Linked DNA regions of Homo sapiens: region 1 is linked to region 2. The links come from fine-mapping of genetic effects on gene expression. Tissue or cell type: minor salivary gland. Region 2 holds a variant in brackets; the other region holds the start of a gene. All regions are shown on one strand. Distances are from middle to middle.

Region 1 (4,239 bases), 83 kb before region 2:
CCCTATTGTGAACTGCGCATGCAAGGGATCTAGGTTGTGTGCTCCTTATGAGAATCTAACTAATGCCTGACGATCTGAGGTGGAACAGTTTCATCCAGAAACCATCCCCACTGCCGACTCCATGGAAAAATTGTGTCCCACAAAACTGGTTCCTGGTGCCAAAAAGTTGAGGACCACTGGTCTACACAGACCACTAGTCAGAGGAAAGTAAGGAGAGGGCTCTGGTCGGCCACACCCCTGCAATCTGACTTGGACTCTGTTCATGCTCAATGGCATCAAACCTTTGTACTTTGTCTCTGTGATTCACAAGGCATAACAGCCCTCTGCTTCATGACCAATTCAAGTTCACTACCTTAGTAGGGCTTCCATCTTGTTTATTTTCTGTGCAACTATCAGTCTCTCTAATTTAGAAAGCACTTCATTTAGGACAAACTAATATTCCACCTCTCAAGACAGCATATTCTGTTATAAACAGGCTTCGAATACCCCTTATCAGGCTTCAGATAACCTTAATCTTATTCCTCTCCCCTTCTGTCGGACTTAAAGTGCTGCAAATACATCAGCTGCTGTAATCTGATCAAAACTTGGCTCCTTAAATTTAAGTTAACATTTTAAAAGGAGAGGGTGAACGTTCATTGTTTCTACATCATTAAAACCTCTTACTTTGTAAAGTTTACATGTAGATTTCTCTGTCTTCTCCACTGGCTACCACCCAGTCCTGTGTTACAGTGACGAGTAAAATTCAGGTGTACATGTGGTATTTGTTCATAATAGTCACAGTAAAAATAATCACTAACATTAAAAAAAAAAAAGATTGTTCCTCTTCACGTGGTCTGTTCAAGTGACTCAGAAAGCAGAGTGATGCTGTTCTTTTTGAAATCAGCACGAATAGCCTGGACTAACAAGCATCCTTCGTCTTTGAAGGAGCTTAGCTTATAACATAACTCTGTCCAAGGGTGTAGAAGACTATCTTTGCCTTATTCTTCTCTTAGCCTCTCCCTTTTTTTCCAAATTCTCTATGAAAATATTAGTCACACTATAAAGTAGAAGACTATAAAATGTCCACTGAACGTCAACACTGATAAGTCATAGCACATTATTAAACGCTGCTATAAGGATTATTTGAATTACTAGAAAAGCATAACTCTCAGTTAAACTTTCAATTTTGAGGTCTTTGTAGATTGATATGCAGCTGTGAGAAATAACATAGGAAGATCCCTTGCATCCGTTACCCATTTCCCGCAGTGGAAACATCTTGCAAGACCATAATACAAAATCACACCCAGAATGTTGACAGTGATAAGATACAGAACATGCTATTATCACAAGTCTCTCTCATGTTGAAAGGCATAATTTTTAAAAGCAAAACAATTTAAAATTTTTTAAATGTTGGACAGAGAGACCAATGGGGTGAGAAATCAAAGATCAAGAAGCAGTTCGAAATGTTGCTTCCATTGAAGAATTAAAAATTCAAAGATACTGAAAAACTGGCACAGAAAAAAATAAAGGGCAAATGGATCTGAAAAGGTCATCCCAAAACAGAATTATTGTAAGTTATTCTATTCATTGTGGTGCCCAAAGAACTAAACTCAAGGGAGGGCAAAGAAGATGTCTGCGCACTTTACCCTGCCAGGCATTTATGAGGTTAGCCACGGTTACCTAAGTCTGAAGTCCTCAGAAACTCTTAACAGCCTAACGAAAAGTGAAGCAATGAATATCTACAGAAAAATCAGCACTCTGGGCCTAAAACAAAGGTGAAAACTAAAGGAAGGAAAGGTTTTTGCTTCAGTGCTTCAATTAATGGCAGTGAGCTACTGCAAATCAACTGAGCTTTACCTTGAAAGAAGCAACATTACAGAGGAATAGATTACAGCCTGTCCACATCTGCTCCCAACTCATCTACTTGGACATTGAAAGAAACAAATGTTTCTTTACAAATGTCTTCTCTTGCATTACAATTTTATTAAGAATTGTTTGCTGTGGGAAAAGGGCCAAATATGATTAGTAAAATTTCCTACAACAATGCATAGGCGTGTAGTCACTTACCATGCTGATGAGAACGTGCCCTTCCTGCCCTGTAGTAATGACTGAGGAGCCTCCCAGCTGAGCTTTATCACAGGGCCCGGAAATGACTCCACCTGAGGGCTGGAGCTTTCTTCACTTAAAGCAGTATAGCTTCTTTTTAGTTTTTTTAGTTATCTGGTCTCAGAGTAGCTGTGTTGGGCCTGAACAACCCGGGATAAAGTTTGTACACAGCTGCAGATGAACTACTGAGAGCTTATCCAAATCTGCGTCCAACTTATAACTATGTTGAAAAGAACATGTGTCTTTTAAAAATCACCCTTTTGGGTTAAGAATTTATTTAGCATTGGCAGAGAAAAGGAAGGAGTATGAGTAAAATTTTCTGCAACAGCAAAGTAGCTTTTTCTATTGCATGAGTACTATGTGAATATCTTCTTAAATAAATTTAAACAATCCCTGAATACATACAGCAAACCAAGACAGTGTCCTTTTTACATCTGTGTCCTATGCATGCCTCTCAACCACTACCACATCCAAACATATGGGAATTTTCTGTTTTTATTATTATTGTCTTTTGAACTTTTATATTATTATACATAATATATACTTATGTTATTATTTTTTATTAATTGCACTAAGATCAGATCACACATCTTAACTGAGTTCTCTCCTTATATATTTGCTAAAGCTTCCTTTATATTCTACTATATGGTCAATTTTTGAAAATATTCCATGAGTGTTGAAAAGAATGTGCATTCTACATTTGTTGGATGCAATATTTTAGATAGACCGATCATTCAATCAATCAATCTATTAAATCAAATGGATTTATTGTGTAGTCCAAATTTTACGTATCAATTATTTCAAAAGATGTATTAAAAGTTTTCATTATAATTGTGAATTTACCCATTATTTCTTTTTCTGTCAATTTTTCCTTTATACATTTTGAGGCCATGTTATGAAGAGCACATAAATTTTAAATTATTATATTTTCAAAAACTTTAACAATTTTTTATTTTTAAATTACCCTCCTTATATACATTAATTATTTTTACCTTAAAGTTTTTTTTTTTTTTTTTTTGAGATGCAGTCTTGCTCTGTCGTCCAGGTTGGAGTGCAATGGTGCGATCTCAACTCACTGCAACCTCCACCTCCCAGGTTCAAGCGATTCTTCTGCCTCAGCCTCTCAAGTAGCTGGGATTACAGGTGTGTGCCACTATTCCTAGCTAATTTTTTTGTATTTTTGATAGAGACAGGGTTTCACCATGTTGGCCAGGCTGGTCTTGATCTCCTGACCTCGTGATCTGCCCGCCTTGGCCTACCTTAAAGTTTTTATGATCAAATATTAATATTACTACTTTAATACAGTTTTTTGGTTCACATTTGAATGATGTATTTTCCCATCGTTTTACATTCTTAGAAACTTAAAACCTTTCCATATTCTCATATTTTGGATGTGTTCTTTGTATGCATGATATAACTGAATTTTTTTTCTATTTTTGTATTTGAATTGGAGAATTCAGCTCATTACATTTAATATAATAACTAATATAGTTGGGTTTAGATATAGAGTACTATTTTATTTTGTGCTTTCTGTTTGTCTCCATTTTCTAAGTTCTCTTTTCTTCCTGATCTTCTTTTGAATTAATGACATGTTTTGTTAGCATAGTAACAATTTTATTATTCAGTAATCAAAACAAAATTTCTGTTACTCAAGAATCTTGGTTTCTACCAATTCTTCCTTACAACTTTGAGAAAATGAAGAAACCATAGTGTTCTTCAGCAATTTTCTCCTGAACTTATTATAAATTATACTTTCTCTCATTTTGATCTTCATAAAGTCAATCCTATCTGTCTCTGTCAATAACTCCCCAAATGTTTAGCATCCTGGTAGTTCCATATAATGAAAAGAAAAATTAAGCCAGTTCCATTTTATAAAATCAGAATGATATTTATTTTGTTGCTGTATCAAATTTTCTCCCACTGGTCCCAGATATTTTCAGTTTGAAACAAGATGAGGGAAAAATCAGATAATGTGAGTATCTCATTTCTAGTCCACTGATGTACTCAGTATCTTTCATTAACTTTTAAAAATTGTCAGTCTGACATGGAGCTATGATTAACTTAGATTTACGTAGGAATTAGAAAGAAACTAGAAAAATCTCTTTTGTAGTATAATTTAAGAAATGCATCTTATCTTTTAGTAATTCCTTATTT
Region 2 (4,239 bases):
CCATCCTGCAAAATCGACTCCTTGCTGCTGGGATGACAAGATGAAGTCCAAGCTCACGTCCTGGTGGGGTGGGAAGCGTGGGTGGATGGAAAAAAAGGCAAAAATGCCTAACTGTGATGGATGCTCTGCAGAGCTAAGAGGGGTCTCGTAGTAAAGGGGGACAGGCTGATAGCTTTTATTAGAGATCGAGTCAGCGTCTCTGAGGGATGACGTTTATGCTGCGAACTCGGTGACAAGACGGAGCCAGGCAGAAAGTCCAGCTCAAGCTGCATCCCCGAGGCAGCAGCAGACCACCTGCCCACTCCTTCTGCCTGCCCACTGCTTCCTCATGCCCCACCTTCTGCAGCTTTTAGTCCCAGGCCGCCTGGCAGACTTCTCTGCAGATCTCAGGCTTCTCCCAAACAGGCCAACCCCAGAAGGGTGTCTGCCCCTGGACAACCATGCCAGGAAGGAGGCACATTGGGCTATTGAGATAACTCTAAAGGCAGAACTTTCAGAATTGAACATCAGTGACACTGAGAAACGAGGATCAGGAGGCCCTGTGAGCAGTCCAGCCCCTCCCCACAGGCATCCTCTCCAAGGCACCAGTCCACTTGCTTCCCAGCAGAAACATCCCAGGTCCAAAGGCAGGCAGAGAGCCGGCCTGGGAAGGGGCTACTCTGCACCCCAAAGTCTCCAGGAAGCCCCAAACTCACCCTGAGCCTGCAACACCCAATTATCCAAATGGTCTTCAAAGCCTCAGATGCTTTACAACCCAGTCCAGCAGCCTCTGACCCTCAATAGTATCAGCCCCAAATCCTGTGTGCTCAGAGCCTCCCAAGGCTTCCAGTCCAGCACCCTCCCCGACCTCGGCCACAGCTGTCACTTGTGCCCATGGAGCGCTAGGGCCCGGCACTGTGCCTGCAGATCACTGGGCTCCGTGTGTTTTGCTGCGGGAAGAAAGGGAAGGAGGGAGAGGAGGGAGGGAGAGGGTAGCTGGGGCAGGGAGACTGAAGGAAGAAGGGCATTAGCAGCTGTCACTCCTGGAGCGCTGGCCTCTCTGGAACGGGGTGCTCTCTGTCTGCATACTGGGGGCAGCGTCTTTCCTCTTCCTCTTCTCCTCTTCACAATGTCTGACAGTCCACACATCCAAGAGGGAAGGAGAGGGTTTCCAAGATACCTCAGACTCTGTGTGGATTCAGATTCTGCCTTGAAGCTGGTGGAGCTGGAGATTAGGAAGGGCCTGGGCCTGCAGGCGGAGGAGAGGCAGCTGTCCCTGCTGACTCCCCTCTCCCTGACCCTCCCCTCCTGGTCAGCACCTTCCTGGCTTGAGAGGAGTCCAGGACTTTCCTTTTCTCCAAATTCTGGAGACAGGCAGGCCCCAGGGTTAGAAGCAGCACCTTCTACCCTGTTCCGATCACAGCCTGAGTCTTGGACAAGGGCTCCTCCGGCTCTCAGTGGCTCCAGGATTCTGAGAACTCTGACATGCTTCCACCATCTGACAGGCAAGAGGCCAGATGGGCCTGGTTGGCCCACCCTCCCGATGGTACCAGCAGTAACTCTGACCCGGCAGGGTGTGGACACGGCTCAGCCTGGTGGGGCTGGAGTCTCTCCCGTCCCCTGCTCACTCCCCTCCCACCTCGTCCAGAACTGCTCAAGGCCCCGGGGTTACTAAGTCAGGCCCTGTCCCTCCAACGCCTTCCTCTCTGCTTCCCCTCCCCACGTCCCTTCCTTTCTCTGCTGACTGCCTCCACCTTCCCTCCTGTCCTAATCAGCTCAGGCTTAGGTGGCCGAATCTGCCTCCTACAGGGCCCATCTCCCTTGCCCTCCTTCATACCACACATCACTGCCAGCATAA[G/T]CTTCCTAAAGCACAATTTGGCCGCACGTCCCCACAGGTTAAAAACCTTCCGTGAGTCTCCATCTGATCTTCTGGGGAAGAAATAGCACTAATCTTGGTGACATTATGCAAAACACTTCTGCGGCCCCACAGACGCTGTTCTTAGCACTTTCTCCACATCCCCCACCCCCCACCCTCCTCACAACCACGTTGAGGCGGGTCTCACTGTTACCCCCAGCTACAGTTGAGGAGACTGAGGCAGAGAGAGCCACTGACTTGCCCAAGGCCATATCACCAGGCTTCACTGGGACTTGAAAAGGATCCAGACTCCTTCAGCAAACCATCAGGCTGTCTGCGACGGCATTCGGACCTCTCCCTTACCTCCCAGGCAGCGCGGGCTCCCCAAAAGACACTGACGCTCCCACTTCCAAACCGTCACTCATGCAGTTTCCTCACCAAGAACGCCCCACCCCTGTTGAAATCTGCCCCCGCCTCAGTGCCACTTCCTGGAAGTCTGTCCCCTTCTCTGAGCACCTCCTCGAATGGGAATCCACTGACGAGGGACCTGACCCACTGTCTTTGCATGGCCATTTATGTTACATCTCCTGGGCCCAGAGGCCGGCGCAGCGTCTCCCTCCAAGTCCCTGCAGACTCACAGTAAGGAGAAGCACCCAAGGAAACACTTGTAGAATAGTGAGTGAGTGAATGAAAGTCACCAACACCTCCTCCATGAAGCCACGACCACAAGGCTCCCGGTGCAGGAAAATACTGTTCATCAAAAGCACTGAGATTTGTTTTTGTTTGTTTTGTTTTTGTTTTTGTTTGAGACGGAGTCTTGCTCTGCCGCCCAGGCTGGAGTACAGTGGTGCGATCTCGGCTCACTGCAAGCTCCGCCTCCCAGGTTTAAGCAATTCAACTGCCTCAGCCTCCTGAGTCGTTTGGATTATAGGTGCCTGCCACCACGCCTTAATTTTTGTATTTTTAGTGAAGATGGGGTTTCACCATGTTGGCCAGGTTAGTCTCGAACTCCTGGCCTCAAGTGATCCACCTACCTCGGGTTTCCAAAGTGCTGGGATTCCAGTTGTGAGTCACCGTGCCCGGTCCAAAACACTGAGATTTGACTTCTTCCTAGGCCAAAGGTCATCTGGGCAGCAAGGCAGGAGCTCCCGGATCAGGAAAGTGCAGGCACACCATGTCTCTGAGTGGTGGGGTGGGGACAGAGGCTGGCAGGCCACCAACAGGGCAGCATCTGCTCCCAACCAAGGTGACTCAGACCTCGCCTTGTCCAACCTGCAGGCCTCCCAACAGTGGGGCTCTATAAGGCTGGCGTTCGCCTCCAGGGTTCTCCCCGACACTGGATGCCAACCTGCCCAGGGGCAGAAGGGAGGTTGGGCGTGGGGAGTGCCGGGTACAGTCAGAGTTGCCAGGACAGTTTGGAGCAGTGCCTCTTAATCTTGGCCGCACAGCACCTGGGAGCTTTAAATAGACCCCCACGCCTGGGCGCCCCCACCGCTGACCCACCAGGGCTCAGTGCAGGGGGATGGCTCACACGGCACATTCTCCAGAAGCTCCTGGGGTAGCTTCCAGGTGCAGCCGGGGTTGGGAATCGCTGGCTTATGCAACCCAGCAGAGAGGCGGGAAAGGCAGAGCTGAGATCGGGTGGGGCCACCTGTGGTGGGGAAAGAGATGAGCTCACACCTGGAGATGGTAAACAGTGCAAAAGCAAGAAGAAGCTTACAGAAGGAGTCGTTGGGCCTTTGCCCCAGCTGCAGCCACGTGAGAGGGAAGCCAGGGGAGGAGCAAGGTGCAGGCATCTGTGGGCTGGGCAGGGCCTGACTGCACTGGGCCCAGGCTGGGAAGGCCTCACCTGCTTCTCCAGCGGGAACGGAGGGCGACCTGCGCAGCCTAGGCACTGCGGCCGTGGTTCACATGCAAAAACTAAAAGCTGGACTCATTTCCAGAGAAACTGAGATAGAATACTCTACCTAAATTGTTTCTGGAACACATGATCACCATACCTGTTGGGAATCTGTTCTTGATGAGTTTTGTTGTTGTTGTTTTTATAAAAGGGGGACCCACTGTGGAGAGAGAAACAATGGCTTGAACTCTTAAAAGCTGGTCTTAGAGGTCTGGAGTCCACATCTTTGACTACCTGGCAGGGTGACATGCCTTTGATTCTCCCTATGTTTGGACCAAGAGGGGATGAGTTGGGATTTTGTGATCATACGAGGACTATTTTCATGGTTCTTGGACAACAAAAAGAGAGAACAAGACAGGAGTCCTCTCTCTGCAGTTGCATTTCTGACTCTTCCTCTTGTTGCAGAGTACAACTCTGTGAAGATTTCCTTTAATCCCATCAGCACTACGGAAGCCATCTCCCCCATGCTGGAGATGAGGCCTCCCGGGCAAAGGAGCCTGCCAGG

Which allele goes with the higher level. Alleles are on the strand shown, and positions count from the first base shown. SD is a standard deviation of normalised expression in the study named.
For the expression in minor salivary gland of the gene that starts at base 2,085 in region 1, T is the high allele of the variant in region 2 and G is the other (small effect, 0.36 SD a copy in GTEx).

The links. PIP is the estimated chance that this variant, and not a neighbour inherited with it, causes the effect. A credible set is the group of variants that fine-mapping cannot tell apart.
Region 1: TUBAL3 starts here. The variant in region 2 is the best candidate, but not a certain one, in a credible set for the expression of TUBAL3 in minor salivary gland (GTEx, PIP 0.74).

Annotation. Positions count from the first base shown.
Region 1 is chr10:5,402,744-5,406,982 of GRCh38, forward strand. TUBAL3 (tubulin alpha like 3) reads right to left here and starts at 2,085. Exons shown (of 4, transcript NM_024803.3): 1 at 2,047-2,085. The coding sequence starts at 2,049.
Region 2 is chr10:5,485,407-5,489,645 of GRCh38, forward strand. No RefSeq gene overlaps it. Among named protein-coding and RNA genes, the nearest start is that of CALML5, 12 kb to the right of the region's middle. The variant G/T (reference allele first, on the strand shown) is at 1,838.